Linked DNA regions of Homo sapiens: all the other regions are linked to region 2. Evidence: fine-mapped expression QTL. A gene starts in region 2. Each other region holds a variant in brackets. All regions are shown on one strand. Distances are from middle to middle. Region 1 overlaps SETD2 (SET domain containing 2, histone lysine methyltransferase). Region 2 holds the start of NBEAL2 (neurobeachin like 2). Region 3 overlaps SETD2 (SET domain containing 2, histone lysine methyltransferase).

Region 1 (8,000 bases), 100 kb before region 2:
GAGAGAAGAAAGAATTATTTAAGGACTAATTTTTATGGTTTTAGCTTTATTTAAAAAGTTAGATGCAATTTTTTCTTAGTTCTTCAGAATTTTCATTATAAATGACCTATTAATATTCATATAATTTTCTACGTTAGTAAAATCCCAGTTGACTGGCTGTATTTTGTGTATCAGAGAAGATTATAATCTGTTTAAAGCATTTGTTGTAGAGTTCTATTTAGGCTAATGAAAACAGAGTTTCTAGGTTTTTTTTGTGAATGTAAGTGAACCCTATAATGTGTAACGTATACATGAACTCTCCTCGGGCTCTTTGTAATATTCTGATATTGCCTCCCAATGCTCTGCATCGTGTCTCCCTTCCCCCATGAAAGAACACACACTCACAGTCCTGCCTGAAGTCCTTTCTGGAACGTCATGGGCTGTCTTTGTTGTGGATCTGGATGGCAGAGCTAGGTGACGGCCGGGAAAGTAACCAGAAGCTTCAGGAAGAGGTCAGTTCACATTTAGCTTGCTTGTTTCTTAAAACTGTTATATTGATTGCCTCGGTTGTGGATATGTGATAATATCAGTAATTATGAATTTAGCACTGTATCATTGGTATTAAATAATCAAATAATTTTTTCATCTCAGTATCATTCCTTTAACGTATCTAACCGTACATACACCTTGTTAGTAGTTTGTCCCATGGTTTTCCTATAGTATCTTTTTAAAGTTGGTACTACATAGCAGGGAACTACAAGAGCAAGATATAATAACAACAACATAGTTAAGTGAAAGATCCAGTTTGTTGTTAAAACCAGAGTTTTAAAAAGATGGGAAGTCATATAAAATTTGAACTGTGGGGTCTAAAGAATTGGTAAAGATCTGAATTCTGCATAACAAGAGTATGAACATTTTGAGGAATCTTTTAAATAAGTGTTTTAAAAGATCTAAGTAAAGGTTCATTGGCAGCATTATTAGTGGAGTTACGATGTCTTTACCTTTCTATGAAATTAATAAAATTTTCTAACTTTCTAATTTGTAATATAATCCCAGAGTCTTTTATTTAATAAAACACTTTTAAAAACAAACAAAAAGGAATGGGCAGATAAGTACTTGTTCTTGCCTCTGTCCTTCTCCCAGGAGATTTGGCTTGAGGAAATTGAGGAAGCCTTGGGGTTTCTGTGGAACTACATTGAGGAATACTTCAGAAAAAATTCTTGGATTTCAAAATGGGGGAGGTTGTCTAAGAATGAGGAGGGGATCTCTCTTTGCTAGACAGCTGTTTATCAAAAGCTGAAGAGATGTCTGCATTTTTGTGTGTATGACAGACATCATTTAAATATGTTGTTACATAGCTGCTAAGTGTATATCACAGACACTTGGTAAACTTTTTAAGAAAAGATACCCAGGATTGGTCCAGTAGTGTATATGTTTAAAAAGCTACCCAGGTTTAGGAACTACTGGTAGAGAATATTAATCAGTCCTATTTGATGTTGTGATTCTTGCTGATCAGTCTTATTAAAAGTTTTTCTTTCTTAAGGAAAACAATATTATGATTTTTAAATATGCTTGTGTTTACAGAGATGTAGTTCTTAATAAAGCAGTAGCAAAACTGCACTACTCTTGCAGAAATAATCTGAGTCCCATCCAGAAATTGAAAAAGTCAACTGTAGGCCAGGCGCTGTGGCTCAATGCCTGTAATCCCAGCAGTTTGGGAGGCTGAGGCAGGTGGATCACCTAAGGTCAGGAGTTCAAGACCAGCCTGACCAACATGGAGAAACCCCATCTCTACTAAAAAAAAAAAAAAAAGCTGTGCATGGTGGTGCATCCCTGTAATCCCAGCTCCTCGGGAGGCTGAGGCAGGAGAATCGCTTAAACCAGGGAGCCAGAGATTGCAGTGACCAAGATCACATCATTGCACTCCAGCCTGGGCAACAAGAGCGAAACTCCATCTCAAAAAAAAAACAAAATCAACTGTAGCCAGGTGTGGTGGCTCATGCTGGTAATCCCAGCATTTTGGGAGGCCGAGGTGGGTGGATCACTTGAGGTCAGGAGTTTGAGACCAGCCTGGCCAACATGGTGAAACCCTGTCTCTACTAAAAATACAAAAGATTAGCCAGGCGTGGCAGCTAGCGCCTGTACTCCCAGCTACTTGGGAGGCTGAGACAGGAGAATTGCTTGAACCCAGGAGGCAGAGGTTGCAGTGAGCCAAGATCATGCCATTGCATTCCAGCCTGGGTGACAGAGTGAGACTCTGTCTCAAAAAAAAAAAAAAAAGTCAACTGTACAAAGTGATGTAATTTTTTTTTATGTTTAATCAGATTATAAAGACTTTGGAACACTTGCCCATTCCTACTAAAAATATGTTGGAGGAAAGCAAAGTACTTCCAATTATTCAACGCTGGTCTCAGACTAAGACTGCTGTCCCTCCGTTGAGTGAAGGAGATGGGTATTCTAGTGAGAATACATCGCGTGCTCATACACCACTCAACACACCTGATCCTTCCACCAAGCTGAGCACAGAAGCTGACACAGACACTCCCAAGAAACTAATGTTTCGCAGACTGAAAATTATAAGTGAAAATAGCATGGACAGTGCAATCTCTGATGCAACCAGTGAGCTAGAAGGCAAGGATGGCAAAGAGGATCTTGATCAATTAGAAAATGTCCCTGTAGAGGAAGAGGAAGAATTGCAGTCACAACAGCTACTCCCACAACAGCTGCCTGAATGCAAAGTTGATAGTGAAACCAACATAGAAGCTAGTAAGCTACCTACATCTGAACCAGAAGCTGACGCTGAAATAGAGCCCAAAGAGAGCAACGGCACAAAACTAGAAGAACCTATTAATGAAGAAACACCATCCCAAGATGAAGAGGAGGGTGTGTCTGATGTGGAGAGTGAAAGGAGCCAAGAACAGCCAGATAAAACAGTGGATATAAGTGATTTGGCCACCAAACTCCTGGACAGTTGGAAAGACCTAAAGGTAAGGAAGCATCTTTTGTTCATTTCAACTTGAATTACTCAGGTTTAGAGTTCTACAAACCTAAGCAAAATTAACTACTTTTTTTAGCCATGCATATTTCTGAAAAATGGAATACTGTCTCTCTTACTGTTTTATTTATAAGTGTCTCAAACATCCTCTAAACCGTGGCAAGAGTCATATTAGCCAAACTAATATACAAATGTCTTCTTTTCTGTCACTTAGAAAAGTACATCACAATAGTGAGTTCAGTCATTTAAGTGCTCTTCACATTAAAAACAAAAATCCTTTGAGGAGCAAACTTAGGATTCTATTTGTAATGAGAAAAAATTAGTGTTTAAATTTATTGGAAATCAGTTGTATTAATGGAAAATTAAAAATAATTGGAAAACTAAGATAATTTAGCAGCTTACTAAAAATGATTGAATGTAAATTTTTATTTTAGAAAAAC[A/T]ACTTTATGGAACTAGTTCGTATTCACTTCTATTATTGTTTCTGAAATGGGCCTGCTTTTAAATGCCTATTTCTTTGGACAAAAGAGGAAAAATAGATCTGGAACTCTTATGCCTATTACATACATAATCTCTTGTTGAAGAATGTAGCAAGATGTGCAGGGTTTGCTTTGCAGAAAACCCAGACTGAGTCTTGGATAAACACAAGAATGAATAACAGGATAAACCTAGGAGAGGTGTGGTACATTTCATTTGTAAGTGATCTGGACTTGGGATCCACGTCTTGAGGACCCTGTGGGAACAGGTTACTTAACTAGCTTCTATTTTTCTGTTCCTCCTTTCTTCTGCCGGAGATGAAGCAACCAAATAAACCAGCAATCCTGACTCTTTGCAGCAAGATGAACACCTGAATCCTCCCTGCCCCTAATTATGATGACAAAGCTCACTCCATTAGATCCTGTGATTTGACCCAATGAAACTGGCCTTAAACACTGAGCAAAATGAGTAGTTGGTGGTTGTGTACTATGCTTCCTCATTTGCTGTGTTGAGACCCTTCTTTAAGTATGTTGTGGTTTCAGCTTTTGTTTACCCATTTGAGCTCTTACTCATGTTACTTTCATCACTTACAATTCAGTATAAAGTCAGCCTTATTATGTCTTAGGAAATCAGGCCTTTTTCTAAATATGAAAGGAAGAGTTCGTAGTAAATTTACTTATGAAGTCAGTATGTGAACTGCAGGAATCAGAATTGCAGTTAATTGAAAGAAGTGCTGGGATAGTCACTTGATGGATTTTTATTTAAGGCCTGCTTTGTGACAGCACAGGAGTCCCTAAAAGGAGTCCCTCTTGTGTTTGGAGGCTGCTAGTGGAGCCTGTAAAGAAGCTCAGTTAAGAAGGTGGAGATGAAGACAAGTACACAAATGGACACAGAAAAGGCCTTTATAGCTGTACTTTTATGGAAGGAAGAATAAGTAGGGTTGTAGACCAGTAGTTTACTTTTGCCGGAGAAGTCTCTGGTTGATGTTATTTTTTAAAACTGCTAAGAAGTAATCATTGTAAAGCTATCTTAAAATCTGGAAAAAGTAAATATTCTTGTTTCTTCGTATGATAGTGGGTTTCTGTAATTGTGATGGTATGAATTACTCTCTAGGATATACTTAACCCAATTAGATGTAACCATGGTAATTTAAACTCACACTCTGGACACACATTTGAGTCCTACAAAATTATTTCTTCCCCTTCTTCTTATCTTCCCCACTCCTATCTGAAACATCAAAGCAATTTTATATGTAGCTTGATGATCCTCTTGATTTGAGGTTTAAAACTTTATTTGTACTTAAAATATATCCTTCTTATCCTTCATACTTTGGATTTTTCCTGATTCTTAGTGTCAAGGGAGCCGTTAAGTAAAATTCTCCTCTCTTCTTCAAACTTTAGTTTGCTCTGGAATCATTACCCATCTAGAATTGTATTACTGAGAAATGTTTTTACTTGACTGTGAACTGTGATGTTTTGTTATACATTGGTGCTGGGGTTCTTAATTCATCCATCATTCTAATTAACATTTACTATGGCTCTGTTTTCAAAACTCTGATTATGGTGGTTCTTAAAAAAACCAGACAAACATAGATAGCATTTAACCAGAAGTCTGAAATCAGGAATCCATAATTTGAACATGTTTTAGAGAAACACATTGACATGATGTGATTACTGTATATCCATACGATCCCGGCATTGAAAGAGTTAACTACTTCTGTCTGACTTCCACCTATGTGTTCGAGTAGACATTGGCTGAAAAGAAAATGTCTTATTCAACCAACCTTTATTAGGCACCTATTGTCAAACACTGTGTTAGTTGCTGATCTTTAATTCCAAGATCGTACTAAAAAGCATTGGTCTAAGATTGTGGTTATGTGGTTATGGCCATTTCAAGTCTCCCCAGCCAACCGGGGGCCACCATAACATTGGTGGACATGTGTTCCGCTTGGCTTTTCTACACACTGGATGGAGTGAAGAACAGAAAGGGATTGCTTCAGATTCCTTAATCTTGGTTTTGCTGTGATGGCAGACTATAGGAATCATCAGTAAATGAAAGAGGGTGGGAGGGAAGGGAATGAAGCTTCATGAATTACTCTTTGTCCTCCCAGATCTGATGATGATCCCCCTTGTAACTTGAACCATTTCCATCTAGCTTCTCAGGGCAGCAAGGAGCTTGTTAACATCACCAGCTGACCATGTGTCTCCTTTTCTCAACTCCATTTCCAACTTCGTGCTGAAGAAAAACGAGAACCTAGCGTGCATTCTGTGAAGAAACAGGAAGATGGTTGGGAAGTTGGATGATGCATGAAAAATATAATAGGTGAAAAGAGGACAGAGGTGGTTAACTCACTGGCGCCGGCGTTATTTTGGTGCGTCCATTGCCGACAATGGATGTCGTTCCGGGAAAATCCCTACTCCTGGCGAGAAAGGATTAAGTGAGCTACTTTTTCTATACCTATATACACAGGACCACTGCCTTGACTCCACAAGGCTTACACATTTTGACTCCTAAAGTAGACCTCAACCAGAAACATCACCTAGCACATTGCCACTTGTGAGCATGTATTCATTTTCATGTGAAAATTTACTAGGCTACATTTTCAGCAGGGATATGTGCATATATTTCTGTTTGCAGAAGAAATTGTTGCATATCACCCTTCATGCTGAAAATATACCCTAGACTTCATAGGGCAAAACAGCTGGTTACCAGTGGTGACTAAGTGTAACTTGACTGGAATATCTTCATTCATTTGGATCATAAGAAGAGGAGGTAAGGTTCCTGTGAACTTGGCAATTTCATTTGCCATTAAACACCGAGAGATTGTAATGGTTAGTGATTCCAGAGCCTCTCTTATAAACACTTAGATTATAGGATGTGCATTTCTCCTTAGAATGAAGTCTGGGTATTTCCATTTGCATCTGGATTTAGATGATTTAGGGACAAAATTACCTACATGTGATAAGTTGAACTCTTCCTAATGACTATTCTTATTCTTCTCTTATTTCATCTTTATCTCAAGACATTATCTTTAATTCAGCAAATCAAGTATTTCCCTAGAAAGCTATGTATTAAAACTCTCTATGAAAAGTTAAAATAAAACATAGAGTTGCCTAAACTGAGAAGTTTTGAGTCACTGTTTGGAATTTCACTCCCTCGCTAATATTGTATGTGAAATCTGCTGTGCAACATTTGAAAATGAAATTATGTTTCCTGGATTTCTGTGATAATTTTTGAATTCTTACTAGAGTAAGATTATTCTGTATCCATAAGGATTAATATTACTTATCCTTTAACAAAATTAGAATTGCCCCTAAAGAATGCTGTTTTAGCTACAGCAACATTGAAATTTTTAAATAAATGTCTCGTTTGGTAGAAGGCAAAAATGGTCTAAAATTTATTGGTCCATTTTTTAACCAAATACTTTCATCTAAATCAAGGGTTGGCCAAATCTGCCCCACTGTCTGTTTTTGTAAATAAAATTTTCTTTGAAACACAGCCATGTTCATTCATTTATGTACTATCATCTGTGGCTGCTTTTGTACTTCAGTGGTAGAGTTGAGTAGTTGTGAGAAAGACTGGATGGCTCACAAAGCCTAAAATATTTACTATCTTGTCCTTTACAGAAAAAGTTTGCCAACATCTGATCTAAAAGATAAAGTGCAGAATCTGGCTGCTCTAAACATTCTGGTTTTGAATGAAGTCATTTTCACTTTACTCTTTTGGGTGAGCTCTTAATTCTGTTTCCCTAAAGACATAATGATCATGTTTCTATTGCTGCCCATGAAATTAGTTTTTTTAAAAAAGTCTTGATGCTGTTTAGGAAGTGATTTGGTTGTACAACTATCTTGAGAGGTGGGAGGGTGTATACATTATAGAATTTCCAAGCTAGAAGTGATCATTAAGGAATATTGTTATTCCCTTAGGACTGTGACCAAGTCAGAAACTTGAGACTGTTTTAGTATAGATGTAGGCAGTATAATTTAAGTCTTATAGTAACCATAATGAAAACACATACATTTTCCTTCTTAATACTTTAAACTTTTAATTATGATATAATTTCAGGCTCAATGAAAAACTGCAAGAACAGCATTCTGTACATATTCTACATGTTACACACATTCTAGTGACGAGTCTAGAGAAAATTCAGTGAAAAATTCCTCTAAACTTTTCACTGAGATTCCCCAGTGTTAACATTTTACCTTATTTTTTTTATTGTTTTCTGTTTCTGAACTTTAAAAAAGTAAGTTACAGCAGAGGTGGGCAGATCATTTGAGCCCAGGAGTTCAAGACCAGCCTGGGCAACAAAGCAAAACCCTGTCTCTACAAAAACTAAAAAATTAGCGAGGCATGGTGGCACATGCCTGTAGTCCCAGCCACTTGGGAGGCTGAGGTGGGAGGATTGCTTGAGCCCAGGAGGTTGAGGCTGCAGTGATCCATGATGGTGTCACTGCACTCCAGCCTGGATGACAGAGTGAGACTTTGTGTAAAAAAAAACAAAACAAAACAACAACAACTAAGTTATAGATATGATGCCCCTGGATATTGTGTA
Region 2 (8,353 bases):
TGGAGTGCAGTGGCGCGATCTCAACTCACTGCAAGCTCCGCCTCCCAGGTTCACACCATTCTCCTGCCTCAGCCTCCTGAGTAGCTGGGACTACAGGCACTCGCCATCACGCCTGGCTAATTTTTTTTTTTTTTTTTTTTAGTAGAGATGGGGTTTCACTGTGTTAGCCAGGATGGTCTTGATCTCCTGACCTCGTGATCTGCCCGCCTCAGCCTCCCAAAGTGCTGGGATTACAGGCGTGAAACACCGCGCCTGGACACTATTTTTTTTTAAGCAAGGAAAGCATAGATTTATTGAAATGAAAGTACACTCCACAGAATGGAAGTAGGTTCAAGCAAGCGGCTCAAGAGCTGACCAATCCCTTTTACTATCACTAAGGAAAATGGGAATTTCCTTCTAGGGTCCCCATAGACCCCATGGTAACTGACCCTGTTTCTACGGGGACCCCACACTTCCCCATCAGCTCCCCAGTTGTCATAACAACTCCAGGAATCACCAGTGCCCACCCAAGCCTGGGCTGTGTGCTCATCTCCCTATCACTACAGGCCCTTCTCCTTCAGGTGCCTTGGTAATAGAGGCAGGGGACCAAGCACCAAAGAAGTGACTCCACCTTCCCTTTACCCATTTCAGGAAGGTAAACTGAAGCCCAAAAAGGATATGACCAGATAAAGCCAGGTGCGGTGGCTCACGCTTGTAATCCCAGCACTTTGGGAGGCTGAGGCGGGCAGATCACAAGGTCAGGAGTTTGAGAGCAGCCTAGCCAACATAGTGAAACCCCGTCTCTACTAAAAATACAAAAATTAGCCGGGTGTGGTGGCACACGCCTGTAGTCTGAGCTACTCGGGAGGCTGAGGTAGGAGAACTGCTTGAACCCGGGAGGCAGAGGTTGCAGTGAACTGAGACCATGCCATTGCACTCCAGCCTGGGTGACAGAGTGAGACTCTGTCTAAAAAAAAAAAAAAAAAGGAATATGACCAGGTAAAGTACCGGGGGAGTGGAGGGCCTGACCAGGTTTCTGAGAGGCAGTAGAGATCATCAGTTAGGGAGAGGGAACTCTCAGGGAAGTGTAGGCAGGACGAGGTTGCCTCCAGCCTGACCTAACCTCCCTGAACCCTTCTGAGGCCTCAGTGGCATAGCTGGACAGGTCAGCTTCTGCTCCCTCCTGTCACCTGAGGGTTTGTTCTGCCCTGAACTTTGTGACCCTGAGTGCCCTTCCACATTCAGTGCCCCCTCACTCTGTGACCCCATTCACTGGAGGGGTTGCTGAACATCACTGCTGCTCCGGCCTGAACAGGGGCCACTCATCTGCATGCTATGTGGCATTAACTTTTATGGGCTGCCCAACCGCCAGCCTGTCAGGTGCTGTCCCCAGTCCCCCAAGACTCTCCTGCCCTTCCTATGCCTACCCTGGGGGAGCTCTGGTGGGCTCTGAGTCCTCTAGATGAGCCCCCACCTGTCCACCAGGCCTGCTTGACTAGCTCTGCCCTGCCCCAACTCCTGACAATTTGCTTCTTGTCCCACTGCTCCTGCTGTTTCTTCCTCTCAGCCTTCAAAGCCCAAACTCAGCCTCCTCTGGGGTGACTTCCTGACTGGTCACTGCCATGGGACCCACCTCCTCTATCCAGTCATTCAGCTAATACCCAAGGAGCACCTACTGCATGTGAGGTCTGACAATCGTAGTAGGACCCTGCCTTGGTTTCCCCACCAGGGCCCTAAGGAGCTCCAACTGAGTGAAGTCCTGGGATGCTCTGACCCTTCCCTCTTCCCTCAGCAGCCACCCACAGCCCCCTCCCTCACTATGAGGCCCCCAGTTGAGCCGGGCCCCCAGGGGGAGGGGGTGGGTGGGTCTAAACCTGGGGTCTTTAAGGAAGAGGAAGGGCAGGAAGGAGTTACTCCCCCCTCTCCATCCCCACCCAGACCCACAACTGGGGAAACAGGTTTGCCAGCTGATGTCAGCTCTCACTGCTGAAGGGAGGGGTGCAGGTGTTGCTGGCTGGGTGGCTGGCCAACTAAAGGGTCTCTAAACACCCACTTTCAGCTCTGCCCCTTACCTTGCACTCCCCCTCCCCAAGCACACACACAATAGGTCCCTAACAGGACTCAAAGTTGCATAGCCTACTCCTCCCTGGATTGGGGGTTCCAGGATCAGGGTCAGGAGCAGGCGGGCAGGAAGGCGAGCTGGGAGGCTGGCCCTAGCTTCCTCTTCCCAGGCAGCCTGGCCCCGCCTGGCTTGGGGGTTTGCTGTTACATCCTGGATTTGTTTGCCTGGCCCCAGGCTGCCCACTGTCTGCTCAGGCTTCCAAAGCTACAACCTGCCAGCCTATGCTCCATACCTGCCCTGCGAGGTGAGGAGCTCCGGGAGGGGGAGGCTCAGCACAGATATGAGCCATAACCACCTCCTGAGGGGATGGGGGGTGGCCATGTACAGAGCTCAGCTAGATGGGGCATCAGGAGGCAACCATGCTGGAGTTACTGTCCTGGGAGATACCAAGACACTCCCAGCAGCCTGCCACCCAGGCTGAAGACCTATCATTAACATCCCTCACACTCACCAGCTGGTTTAAGCCCCCTTTACCTGCCCATGCACCTAGAGCCTGCCCATAGCTATGGGGCAGTCCGAGGAAGGAGGACTAGGGTAGGCTTCTCTTCAAACCCTCTGCTCCTTCACAACCACTGGGGATGCAGGCAGAGAAGCTGGGGCGAGGGGACCCAATGGGGCCAGGAAAACAGGAGCCTTCTCTGGTCTGGACCAGCTATAATGGCTACCTCTCCACAGAGTCCAGGAAGCCCCTGAGGTCAGGGCTGTGTCAGTTTTTTATTTTTATTTTATTTTTTTGAGACGGAGTCTCACTCTGTCACCAGGCTGGAGTGCAGTGGCGCGATCTCGGCTCACTGCAACCTCTGCCTCCCTGGTTCAAGCGATTCTCCTGCCTCAGCCTCCCGAGTAGCTGGGATTACAGGCACACCCCACCACGCCCGGCTAATTTTTGTATTTTAGTAGAGATGGGGTTTCACCATGTTGGCCAGGATGGTCTCGATCTCCTGACCTTGTGATCTGCCCGCCTCGGCCTCCCAAAGTGCTGGGATTACAGGTGTGAGCCACCGTGCCCGGCCAGGGCTGTGTCAGTTTTACAGGCAGGAAGCAGAGGCTCAGAAGTCGAGTTCGATCTGAGTTATACCAAAGAGGGACTCTACTCCATGCCTGGCCTCCTGCTGGGGCCTGGACCTCTCACAACCTGAGCGGACTGAAGAGGCTGTGGTCCTTCTGGCCTGGACTCCAGGTCCGTGGAAGACAGTGGGCCAGCCTCCTTATGGAGGGCCAGCGTGTCTGAGCATGAATTCCCCCCACTGACAAACTGTTCAGGGCACACAATGGTCCATTGTGCCCAGGGCACACCTGAGCCAGGAGCATGATGCCAGGCAGGTGCAGGGAGGGAGGTGCTGGGTGAAGGGGAGGGGAGTGTTACCCTGGGATCCCTCCCTGCTGTGGGTACAGAAGGAAAATGGGGGACTATGTGTGTGAGACGGTGTGAGTGATACCAGGTTCTCAGCTGATGGGACACCCACGTCTGAGTCACTCCCCTCACCTTCTGACTCCACCTGAAGTATTTTCTGAGATGGGTGGGGAGCTCAGGAGGAACGGGCCTCCCTCCAACCTTTTCAGACATCCCTCAGGGCCTCAAGGACCCACCCTCACCCTGGGCATCCAGAGGAAAACCTTTTCTTCTGCTCCTAGAGAGGTCCTGGGTCTACCCCTCAGAATGGGGGTGGGGTGGGGTGGGTCATTTCAAGTCAGGGAAGAGCTTATCACAGCCTGTTCGCTGGGGTGTGGGGGGATGCAACTCAAGAAGGACCTGAAGTGGGAGCATTCCCCTTCCACACACCTCCCTACCTTGGCCCACACCCCCAGACCCGTTGGCCACGACCACCCAATCAGGCCGCGCCCAAGGGAGAGGCAGCTCATAGACAAATTGAGTCCCCCTCCCCCTAGCCTCCTGGCCAGTCTCCAGGTCTCTCCAGGTCTCAGTTTCCCCATTTGTAAAAAGGCCAAGTGTCCGGCCGCCTCGGCCCAGGCCACTCTCCTCTAGCAAGAAAGACTCAGGCTGCACGGTCCTGCTCGCGGGGGTGGGTTGCTATGAAGTGCACGACCGCGAGCTCTGTCCCCAAGGCATAAGTGCCAGAGGCACCCGGCGGGCTGGGGGCACACACGTGTGTGCGGAGCCGGAGCATGCCCTGCGCGCGCGCGCCCGCGCGCGCGGCTACGCGGCCCCAGCGGCGCGGGGCGCCAGGTGCAGCAGGCGCGGGGCGCGCGAAGCTGGGGGCACCGCGGGTGCGGGTGCGGGCGCGGGGCGGGGCGGGCTCACCTGCGCGTAGTAGAGCAGCCACAACTCGTACAGCCGCTCCGAGGCGGCCATGGCCCGGCCCGGCTCCGGCCCTGCTGCGCGCCACCTGTCGCCGCCTCCTCCGCGCCGCCCGCCGGTTGCCCTCGGCCAGGCCCATGGGCGGAGGGCGTCACTCCGGGGCGGAGCGGCGCGGTACTACTGGGGAAGTCTGCGGCTGTGGCCTCCGCGGCGCAGAGCCACCCAAGTCTGCTCGCTCCTCCTCCTCACTGCCGGCCGCCGCCCAGCTTCCTGCACTTCGCTGCAGTCACCGCCGCCCCGCCTCTCCTGGGACCATGTAAAGGGCGGAGAGCCTGGCAGGAGGAGGGGCCTATGGGCCGGGCGGCCCGGGAGGGTGCCCCGCTGCCCTGCCCCACCAGTGCCATTGGAAGGGCCAGCCTGAGCCTCCGGGACGAGGGTCGGGGTGAGGAATTCCAGACTTCCCCAGGGTCTGAATCCGCCCAGGACGCTGCTCGCCTGACTGCATTTGCCGCCATTCAGGGAAGGGGCGGCGGGCCGCGTGGAGGTGGCGAGGGTCCTTCAACAATAATCTCCACCACCACCATGACGACCCCTTGTAGCGCTTATCAAATGCCAGGTGCTACTCTGTCGCTTTATGGGAAGACCGAAACGCAACTTTTGAGCTCTAGCTGTTTGTGGAGTGTGATGGCGGGAAGTTAGAGAGTAGCAGGACTAGCCTGAAATACCTTCGGGGCCGCGGTGCCCTCCCAGATCCCAGAGAGGCTTAGACCGTTGCCACGGGTCCCCCTCCCTCCTCCAGGAAGCCTTCCCAAACGCTCCAGTGGAGGGGCTCCCCCCATTCCCCAACTCCAGGGCCCAGAACTTGCTTCACATATGTTGTTTCTTTAACCTCAACAGGTGGGTGCCTCATGGCTCTGTTTTTTGTTTGTTTTTGAGACAGAGTCTCACTCTGTCGCCCAGGCTGGAGTGCAGTGACTCGATCTCGGCTCACTGCAATCTCCGCCTCCTGGGTTCAAGTGATTCTCCTGCCTCAGCCTCCTGAGTAGCTGGGACTACAGGCGCGTGTCACCAGGCCCAGCTAATTTTTTGTATTTTTAGTAGAGACGGGGTTCCACCGTGTTAGCCAGGATGGTCTGGATTTCCTGACTTCATGATCCACCCGCCTCGACCTCCCAAAGTGCTGGGATTATAGGCATGAGCCACCGCACCCGGCCGGCTCTGTTTTACAGATGGAGAAACTGAGGCCCAAGTTGACCAAATGAGGACCACTTGGGCAGCAGGGGCAGGGACCCAGGCTTGACTGACTCTTTTTTGGGTCCCTGCCACCATCACCCCGTGCCCCCTTCCCCATCCCCTTACCTCACAGTCTGGACACGGGGAAAGGGGCACGGGGTGATGGTGGCAGGGACCCAACCCCTGGTGTTGGGCAGGGATCAGGCTCTTTGTTGGGGCTGGGGAGAAGTTTTCTGGGCCCAGAGGGGTGCTACTCGTTCCAGGAGTTGACCAGTCTGGAGACTCCTAGACCTTGGTTGGCCAAGACAACAGAGACCCTGTCCTGTTTTGTTCTCCCAGCTTCTTGGTTCACCTCTGGCCTTTTGTCCTGCTTCATCCATCATAGCTCTGAGCTGAGGTTTCCTGAGCACCTCCAAACTGCATGCCAGGCCTTGGCAGAGCAACCCATCCACTACAGGGAAGAAGGCTTAGACAGACCCAGGTTAGTGAGGACAAGAGGGTTAGTGAAGGGAGGGCTAGATCTGCAGTCTGTGGCCCATGGGCCTCTGAAGGGAGTTGGAAGGGGAAGAGTGGATGTCCACCTGTAGCCAGCTTGGGAAGGGAAGACTCAGGGAGGGAACAGCCTAAGAGGCTAGTTGTCCCCTGGCAGTGGAGGTGGAGAGGGGGCGGCATGGTCTCCTATTCCCAAGTGAGAGGGGGTGTGGCTTTGGGGACCCCCACATACTGAAAGAATATCTTGACTTCAGCCTAAGTGGTCTCGCGGTTATCAGGACACTCTAGTTCATGCAGGAAAGAAGACTCTGGCAGCTTCTGCTGGGTAGCCATGAATCTTGTGGCGACTTGCAGTCGAGGCCACCCCAAGTCTTTCTAAGCTGGGGATTGGGGGCAGTACTTGAGGCCCACTGGACCCAGGTTGGGGTTTGCTCTTCCCCGGGAAAGGTAACTTGACCCTGAGGACTTTGCTGCTCCAGGAGGGGATGGGAATGAGAGGGGATCATCTTTGAGTCCAGAGGGAAACAGCCATACAGTCAGGTCCCCCTCACTGTGCAGGCTTTGTCTGAGCTGAGAGTGGTCACAGAGGGGCTTAGGGGCGCTTGTCAGGTGAGTCCGGGGAGCCACTGACAGCTGCAGAGGTGTAAGTCATACCTTGTATTAGGGTGGGATCGAAGTGGAGGATCAGGGAAGGCTTTTTTTTTTTTTTTTTTTTTTTTGAGACGGAGTCTTGCTCTGCTGCCAGGCTGGAGTGCAGTGGCACGATCTCGGCTCACTGCAACCTCCGCCTCTCTGGTTCAAGCGATTCTCCTGCCTCAGCCTCCCGAGTAGCTGGGATTACAGGCACGCGCCACCACGCCCAGTTAATTTTTGTATTTTTAGTAGAGATGGAGTTTCACCATGTTGGCCAGGATGGTCTCCATCTCCTGACCTCGTGGTCCGCCCTCCTCGGCCTCCCAAAGTGCTGGGATTACAGGCGTGAGCCACCGCGCCCGGCCCAGGGAAGGTTTCTTGAAGGCATTCGAGCCTTGTCAGGTCAAGTGGACAAGGATGAGTCAGGGCATTCCAAGAGGCCAGCATGGAGTGATTAGTGTGGTTAGTACTTGGGCAAAACCGGAGCGATCGACGCACTCTTTTCTCCTTCTCTCAGGTCTGAATTCCACTTGCTGCTCTTTCACTGATCAGCGTTGGATAAATCGAGCCTTAGCTTTTTTTTTTTTCTTTTTTTTTTTTGCTGGCTCCCCACCCACTAGGCAAGTTGTCCGGAAGAATAAGGGCGGGGCGGGGCGGGGCGGGGCAAGGCGGGGAGGGCTCGCCCATAATAACCCCGCATTGATTGGCTTTCAGGACCTCCCAGTCTCTCATTCTCGTCCTTGGATTGGCCGCGAGACATTTATCCACTCTCCTTAGGCCTGCGCGATGCAAGACGGGAGAAAAGGAGGGGCGTACGCGGGCAAGATGGAGGCAACTACGGCTGGTGTGGGCCGGCTAGAGGAAGAGGCGTTGCGGCGAAAGGAACGGCTGAAGGCCCTACGGGAGAAAACCGGGCGCAAGGTGAGAAGTGTGGAGTGAGGGTCGCAGTTGAGGCGTCCAGCGTTCGGGGTCCGGGTCGCGCTTGAGGAGAGCAAAGGGCTAATAAGGAAAGACAGCTGCCGAGGGCGCGCATGCGCGGGCGCTAACGCATGCGCGAGAAGACGGCGCCCTCCCACGATGTCTGGGGCTGCTTGGCGTGGGACTCCTCTGGCGCTGGTGCGGTCGTCGCGCATGCGCGGGGGTGGGCAAGGCAGTGGTCAGCGACCCGCAGTCCATCTGACTCCTGCTTCCCGGGTGTTGCTCGTGTAGGTATCTAGGGCTGCCTGTAGGTTCAGATGCTTGTTGGGTTAGGCGTGATTTGTTCCGTTCCTCTATGGCCTAGCTGGTCTTTAACCCCCGCCTTCGATTCTGAGTCAGACAGACTCCCCAGTCCGGCAGCACTCCTTGGACAGGGCAGCAAGTGACAGCAGTGGGTATACAGCCGGAGTCGTTTCGTGCAAAAATCAAAAAGAGGCCGGGCACGGTGGCTCACGCCTGTAATCCCAGTGCTTTGGGAGGCCGAGGCAGGCGGATCACTTGAGGTTAGTAGTTCGAGACCAGGCTGGGTAACATGGTGAAACCCCGCCTCTACTAAAAATACAAAAATTAGCCGGGCGTGGTGGTGCGCGCCTGTAATCCCAGCTTCTCGGGAGGCTATGGCAGGAGAACCGCTTGAGCCTGGGAGGCAGAGGTTG
Region 3 (8,000 bases), 66 kb before region 2:
GATTTCTGATTAGGGAAATCAGAAATGTTTATGCTCAGCCTGTACATAAATACAATCATGTGCCATGCAATGGCGTTTTGGTCAACAACAGATGGCATTTATGACAGTGATCCTCGTAAGATTATTATGGAGGTGAAAAATTCTTCTGGCCTTCTGACATCTTGATGATCCTGACTCCGTGTAAGCCTAGGCTAGTGTGTGTGTTTATATCTTAGTTTTTGTTTTTTTATGTTGATACATAATAGGTGTACATATTTTCAGGGTACATGTGATAATTTAATATATTCATATAATTTGTAAAAATCAGTGTATTGAGATATCCATCACCATAAATATTTGTCTTTTCTTTATGCTAGAAACATTCAATTATTCTCTTCTAGCTATTTTGAAATATACAATAAGATTATTCTAAAATATAGATACCTTACTGATCTATGAAATACTTGGTCATGTTTCCTCTATCAAAATGTATGTTTTTCCCATATATATATATGTTTATATATATAAGAAACATAAATTTATATATATAAGAAAAACATATAAATATATGTACAAATATATAAACTTATAGAATAAGTTTATATATAATATATAAATTCAGAATAAGTTTATATATATAATATATACTATAAACTCAGAATAAATTTATATATTATATATAATATAAACTCAGAATAAGTTTATATATATAATATATATAATATAAACTCAGAATAAGTTTATATATAATAATATAAACTCATAGAATAAGTTTATATATATAATATATAATATAAACTCAGAATAAGTTTATATATTTAATATATAATATAAACTCATAGAATAAGTTTATATATAGGCCAGGCGCGGTGGCTCACACCTGTAATCCCAGCACTTTGGGAGGCTGAGGCGGGCGGATCACAAGGTCAGGAGATCGAGGCCATCCTGGCTAACAAGGTGAAACCCCATCTCTACTAAAAATACAAAAAATTAGCCAGGTGTGGTGGTGGGCACCTGTAGTCCCAGCTACTCGGGAGGCTGAGGCAGGAGAATGGCGTGAACCCGGGAGGCGGAGCTTGCAGTGAGCCGAGGTCGTGCCACTGCACTCCAGCCTGGGCGACAGAGCCAGACTCTGTCTCAAAAAAAAAAAAAAAAGAATAAGTTTATATATATAAGAATACATATATATATATATATATATATATATATATATATATATATATATTTAGAAAACTTATTCTATAAAAAACTTATAGAATAAGAATAAGGATATAAAAAAAATATTTGGCCCAGTGTGTTGTCTCACATCTGTAATCCCAGCAATCTGGGAGGCCAAGGCAGGAGAATCACTCAAACACAAGAGTTCAAGACTAGCCTAGACAACATAGCGAAACCCTGTCTCTACAAATTTGTTTTTAATTAGCTGGGCGTGGTGGCACATACTCGGGAGGCTGAGATGGGAGGATTGCTTCAGTCCAGGAGTTCAAGGCTACAGTAAGCTATGATCACACTACTGCATTCCAGCCTGGGTGACAGAATGAGACTCTTTTTTAAAAAAAATATAGGCCAGGCACGGTGGCTCACACCTGTAATCCCAGCACTTTGGGAGGCTGAGGTGGGCAGATCACAAGGTTAGGAGATGGAGACCATCCTGGCCAACATGGTGAAACCCCGTCTCTGCTAAAATAAAAAAAATTAGCCAGGCGTGGTGGCACGCACCTGTAGTCCCAGGTACTCGGGAGGCTGAGGCAGGAGAATTGCTTGAACCCGGGAGGTGGAGGTTGCAGTGAGCCCAGATCGCACCACTGCTCTCCACCCTGGCGAGGAGGAGGGAGGAGGGTTGTTTATACAGCTGTAGAATGTGTTTGTATTTTAAGATAAGTGTTATAAAAGAGTTAAAAAGTTGAAAAAATTTGTTTATAAAGTAAAAAAGTTATAGTAAGTTACAGTTAATTTATTAAAAAAATGTTAATAAACTTAGTGTAGCCCAAGTGTTTATAGTCTACAGTAGTGTACAGTAATGTCCTAGGCCTTCATATTCACTCACTCACCACTCACTTACTCAAAGCAACTTCCAGTCCTGCAAGCTTTGTTTATAGTTAGTTCCCTATACAGGTGTACCATTTAAATTTTGTTTTTTTGAGACGGCATCTCGCTCTGTTGCCCAGGCTGGAGTGCAGTGGTGCCATCTCGGTTCACTGCAACCTCTACCTCCTGGGTTCAAGCGATTCTTCTGCCTCAGCCTCCTGAGTGGCTGGGACTACAGGTGCATGCCACCATGCCTGGCTAATTTTTTGTATTTTTAGTAGAGATGGGATTTCACCGTGTTAGCCAGGATGGTCTCGATCTCCTGACCTCGTGATCCGCCCACTTTGGCCTCCCAAAGTGCTCGGGTTGCAGGTGTGAGCCACCGTGCCCCGGCCTAAAAAATTTTTATACTGTATTTTTACTGTAACTTTTCCATGTTTAGATACACAGATACTGTTAAGTTATAGTTGCTTACAAGTCTTTATTACAGAAACATGCTGTACAGGTTTGTAGCCTAGGAACAACAGACTATACCATATAGCCTAGGTATCTAATAGATTTGTGAAGTACACTGTATGATGTGTAAGTACCTCATACACTTAGTAGGTTTGTGAAAGTACATTATATGATGTTACCACAACAATGAAATCTCCTAACAATGCATTTCTCAGAATGTACCCCCCTTGTTAAGCAATACATGACTGTACATTTTCCTCTCAGGCTTTGTGATACTATTCTGATGGTAATTCTGCCTTAACAATTAATGTTTTTCAGTCTGGTTTATTATCCAAGTAGATTAAGCTGATCCAGAATACCAAATTAAGTGTTCTTTTCCTTTTTCCTGTGTCCTGTCAGTAATTATTCATTCAGAAACCTGCTAGATAGCTGCATTGCCTATTCAGACTACTTGAGTTTTTACTGGTGTCATTTGGAATTATATTTTGTATTTTGAGTACTTAGCATTTGATGTTTCTGTAATCATTTTACCTGCTAGAATCTCAGTCCATAGGAGCAAAATCTCTCCTTAAGCACAGGATACATGTCTATTCAATTCCTTAACAGTCACCACCTCTTAGGACAGCAAGGCTATTTTTCAGTCTTCTTATCACCTCTTCTTATTTAAGCAGATTTTCTATGCTTGAGAAATAATTACAGAGTAGGTTTAAGCCCTAGCATAGTACTTATTTCTTATGAAACTCCAGGCATGGGCAGTACCTGGTTTTGATGGTGGTCAGCACTAAATGAGATGATGTATGTTAAGGGGCTTCTTGCATCATAGAACACTGTATAAATTGGTGTGTTGTGAGAATTTCAGATGCATTGATTCTGCTTTCTGCCAAGGGGTTTTATCATAGAAGACTACAAAAAGCTAAAACAAAAGGTAGCTTAAAATTTGATCATCTTATTTACTATGATTCACACCCTTTGACCTTTTCTGATCCAAACAACCTGTTTGTTATTACAAGTTGGTAGCAAAAGCCTTCCTGAAAAGAGCAGCGTGGCATTGTTTCTTGGATATCCCAGGAGCAGCACTTCATTGGTTTTTGCTTATAGAAACTGTCCACCTGTTTAATTTTCAATGTCATTCCAATGTCATTGAAAGCTAAACAGTTGGAGAATTTCTATGACCAAAAAAAAAAAAGCTTTTATTTTCTTATGATAAAGTAAAATCAAAGTAAGTAAATGAATAGGGAATTAGTAAAAAAAGAAACTTTGGGGTTTGAAACAAAAAATTGTTTTGCACATTTATGTCCAAATATATAAACAAAAAATTTTAAAATGTTATGGGTATATCTTTAAGATTGTGCCAACTTGGAAGTCAGTCTGTTTATTAAAGTGACAAAAGCTTAAATTATTGATTTCTTCATTTTATCTTTTAGAGTTATGCCCAGCCAAGTCTTCAGTATATCCAGGGGCAACAGATTTTCACAGCTCATCCACAAGGAGTGGTGGTACAGCCAGCCGCAGCAGTGACTACAATAGTTGCACCAGGGCAGCCTCAGCCCTTGCAGCCAGTAAGAAATGTTTCAGTTGTTAAAACTCATTGGCTGTCTACTTTGTCTTTGGAAGGTTTTCTTTTTGGTTTGGATTTGTTTTGGGTTTTATTTTTGGGTTTTTTTTTCACGTGTTCTTTGTTTTATTTTATTTTATTTT[A/T]TTTTTTTTTTGAGACAGAGTCTCGCTCTGTCACCCAGGCTGGAGTGCAGCGGCACAATCTTGGCTCACTGCAACCTCCACCTCCTGGTTTAAAGCGATTCTCCTGCCTCAGCCACCTGAGTAGCTGGGATTACAGGTGTGTGCCACCACGCCTGGCTAATTTTGTATTTTTAGTAGAGACGGAGTTTCCCCATGTTGACCAGGCTCGTCTTGACCTCATGACCTCAGGTGATCCACCCGCCTCAGCCTCCCAAAGTGCTGGGATTATTTATAGGCATGAGCCACCACGCCCGGCCCGTTTTTAAATTTGTGTAGCCACCAAATTCACCTGAGCCACCCTGAGGGCGTGAACTCAACCATTTTGTAAAAAAAAAATTTTTTTAATTCTGTGGAATTTATAGTTCCGTTAATACATATTTTGCTCCGCACCTGTAGTCCCAGCTACTCAGGAGGCTGAGACAGGAGAATGGCGTGAACCTGGGAGGCGGAGCTTGCAGTGAGCTAAGATCGCGCCACTGCACTCCAGCCCAGGTGACAGAGCAAGACTCCATCTCAAAAAAAAAAAAAATGCTCCTAGGATCCTTTTTATTTGTTGTTTACCCTGACCTTGTATTTTTATATTTTACTATGAATTTTTGAAGTAATAATTTTTTTTTTTTTTTAACTCTGTCACCTAGGCTGGAGTGCAGTGACACGATCTTGGCTCACTGCAACCTCCACTTCCTGGGTTCGAGTGATTCTCCTGTCTCAGCCTCCTGAGTAGCTGGGACTACAGGTGTGCATCACTGCACCCAGCTAATTTTTGTATTTTTTTTTTTTTTTTTTTTTAAGAGATGGAGTCTTGCTCTGTCGCCCAGGCTGGAGTGCAGTGGCATGATCTCGGCTCACTGCAAGCTCCGCCTCCTGGGTTCTCACCATTCTCCGGCCTCAGCCTCCTGAGTAGCTGGGACTACAGGCGCCCGCCACCACGCCTGGCTAATTTTTGTATTTTTAGTAGAGACGGGGTTTCGCTGTGTTAGCCACGATGGTCTCAATCTCCTGACCTCGTGATCTACCCGCCTTGGCCTCCCAAAGTTCTGGGATTACAGGGATGAGCCACTGTGCCCAACCTTAATTTTTGTATTTTTAGATACGGGGTTTCACCATGTTGGCCAGGCTGGTCTTGAACTCCTGACCTCATGATCCGCCCGCTTCAGCCTCCCAAAGTGTTGGGATTACAGGCGTGAGCCACCACACCTGGCCGAAGTAACAATTTCCTAGACCAGCTATCTATCAGTATTTACCGCGTACAGGTTGAGTATCCCTTATCTGAGCTTCACGGGACCAGAAGTATTTCACATTTCAGAATTTTATGGATTCTGGAATATCTGCACTATAATTACCACTTGAGCATCTCTAATTTGAAAATGTATAGCTTGAAATATTCCAATAAGCATTTCCTTTGAACATGGCCTTTGAGTGTCATGTCAGCACTCAAAATGTTTTGTATTTTTGTATTAGGGCTGCTTAACCTGTACTAGAATATGATACTGTACTAGTCACCATGGACTAGGCATGTAGAATTGTGTGATATACTTCACTATACATGTTGTACAATGTTTAAAAAAAGTTTTTTATATGATGTTTAATATTAAGATAAGCTTTTGGTATTCTGCAACATATGTAGGAGGATATGGTGAAATCTCAAAGTGTTGTTGTTTTTGGATAAAGTGGAAAATAAGAGGTTGGCATGGGAAACAACTGAAAAAACTAAACAGAATAGCATGGTCAAATCAGCACTTTAGAACACCTACAGTTCTGGAGAAAGCTCTTGCAGCAATCCAGCAATTGATGATGACTTTAGACAGGACAGTTAGTGAAGATGGACTAAAAATACTATATGTGAAATAACAGGATAATAAGATAATGTGTACTTAGAGCAGATGTTTGAGTGCTTGTTACGAGTTGAGCCCTTCTAGGCCTTTTTTTTTTTTTTTTTTTTTTTTTTTTTTTTTTTTTTTTTTGAGATGAAGTCTTGCTTTGTTGCCCAGCCTGGAGTACAGTGGTTTGATCTCGCGGCTCACTGCAACCTCCGCCTCCCAGGTTCAAGCAGTTCTCCTGCCTCAGCCTCCTGAGTAGCTGGGATTACAAGTGCACACCACCACACCTGGCTAATACTTTTGTATTTTTAGTAGAGACAGGGTTTCACTATGTTGGCCAGGCTGGTCTCAAACTCCTGACCTCGTGATCCACCTGCCTCGGCCTTCCAAAGTGCTGGGATTACAGGCATGAGCCACTGTGCTTGGCCGACTAGGCATTTTTAATACAAACATAAATAAGTTTCCATTTGTATTCTTAAAAGCTGATCTTTCAAATAAGAGAGATGATGATCACAAGAGAAAGATGGTGACTACACTAAAAATAAAGTTTTGTGTTGGGAATAAGTACTGAATGGTTTGGAATATATATTTTTTCTTTTTTGCCTTAAACTATTAAGAGATAAATGGTTTGGAATATTAAGGGACACAGAAGCTTGGGGAAAAGAGGTCACTTTATAAGCTAAAGGATAGGGTAATGGAGGAATTGAAACTTAAGCTGGGCCAGAAAACCCCAGCTGGGTGAAATAAGAGATAAAAAAGAGTATACACAAAGCAAGAATGCTCAAAGACCCGTGTTTGCTTAAAAGTGAACACATTTTATCTGAGCCTGGGGTCTTCAGGTTCCTCTTTAACTGTGCAAGCAAAGGTAAAGGTAAAAAATGTATTCTTCATTAATAGGCTTGAAAGAAGGAACAAGTATATATCCTTGTGGTGATTACTAGTCTGCTAGGGCTGCGGTAACAAAATACCACAGACTGAGTGGATTAAATAACAGAAATTTTCTCACAGTTCTTGAGGCTGGAAGTCCAAGATCAAGGTGTCAGCAGTGTTGGTTTCTCCTGAGGCCTCTCTCCTTGGCTTGCAAATGGCTGCCTTCTTGCTGTATATACCTTTTCTCTGTGAGTGTCCTCTGGTGTCAGTTCTCTTTTAATAAGGACACCATCCTATTAGATAAAAAGTCCTCACTCTTTTGACTTCATTAATCTTAATTAGCTCTTTACAGGCCCTGTGTCCCAGTAACAGTCACAGCAGGATTAGAGCTTCAACATACATGTTTTGGGGAAACAAAAATCAGTCCATAAGTGATTATGAGGTTTTTATGTTTTTCAGAATGTGGCACTAATATTTTATAGTTTTGAGGTTTCAAGTACGGAAAAAATATAATGGATAATGTTAACATTCTGTCATATTTGCTTCTCAGGGGGTTTTTTGGTTTTTCTTTTTTTTTTTTTTTAAAGATAAAGATATTTCTGTATCCCATTTAGTTAATTGGTATCCTGCAGTTGATATGCCTTAGAATTGGTGTTTTAAAGTTGAAAAATGCTGCTCTATATGATAAACTATATGGTATCTTGGATGGTAAACTTAGAGCCAACTGTCAATTTTCTGATAGCTCTGTAAACCTCTTTATATATACTGTCCCTTATTTCCCAGACTGTACCTTTCCTTTATCCTTTTTTTAAGAGGAGGTAGATGTACATTTTTACATATTTAAGTGGGCTATTTTGTCCTATTCAGCCAGATTAAGAGAGAGATCACTGATCAAAAATGTGTGTGTTTTCTTTGTAGTCTGAAATGGTTGTGACAAATAATCTCTTGGATCTGCCGCCCCCCTCTCCTCCCAAACCAAAAACCATTGTCTTACCTCCCAACTGGAAGACAGCTCGAGATCCAGAAGGGAAGATTTATTACTACCATGTGATCACAAGGTAAGAGGAGCTGTATGGGCGTTCCCATGTCTGCTTTTACTTAATCAAAGAA

What was found. PIP is the estimated chance that this variant, and not a neighbour inherited with it, causes the effect.
Region 1: its variant is fine-mapped to the expression of NBEAL2 in whole blood (INTERVAL, PIP 0.92).
Region 3: its variant is fine-mapped to the expression of NBEAL2 in memory regulatory T cells (Schmiedel 2018, PIP 0.95). The same link has a PIP of 0.9 or more in Th17 cells and follicular helper T cells.

What each region holds. Positions count from the first base shown.
Region 1 is chr3:47,078,686-47,086,685 of GRCh38, reverse strand. It overlaps SETD2 (SET domain containing 2, histone lysine methyltransferase), which reads left to right. Exons shown (of 21, transcript NM_014159.7): 11 at 372-491; 12 at 2,304-2,966. Among named protein-coding and RNA genes, the nearest start is that of SETD2, 81 kb to the left of the region's middle. RefSeq lists enhancers at 2,409-2,548, 2,433-2,934. The variant A/T (reference allele first, on the strand shown) is at 3,415.
Region 2 is chr3:46,975,924-46,984,276 of GRCh38, reverse strand. It overlaps NBEAL2 (neurobeachin like 2), which reads right to left and starts at 4,611. Exons shown (of 54, transcript NM_015175.3): 1 at 4,365-4,611. The coding sequence starts at 4,415. CCDC12 (coiled-coil domain containing 12) reads left to right here and starts at 7,532. Exons shown (of 7, transcript NM_001277074.2): 1 at 7,532-7,640. The coding sequence starts at 7,545. RefSeq lists enhancers at 2,776-3,556, 3,557-4,337, 6,240-6,940, 7,510-7,819, 7,644-8,345 and 1 more and silencers at 4,255-4,594, 4,695-4,884, 7,280-7,419.
Region 3 is chr3:47,042,509-47,050,508 of GRCh38, reverse strand. It overlaps SETD2 (SET domain containing 2, histone lysine methyltransferase), which reads left to right. Exons shown (of 21, transcript NM_014159.7): 16 at 3,888-4,022; 17 at 7,809-7,948. Among named protein-coding and RNA genes, the nearest start is that of NBEAL2, 67 kb to the right of the region's middle. The variant A/T (reference allele first, on the strand shown) is at 4,162.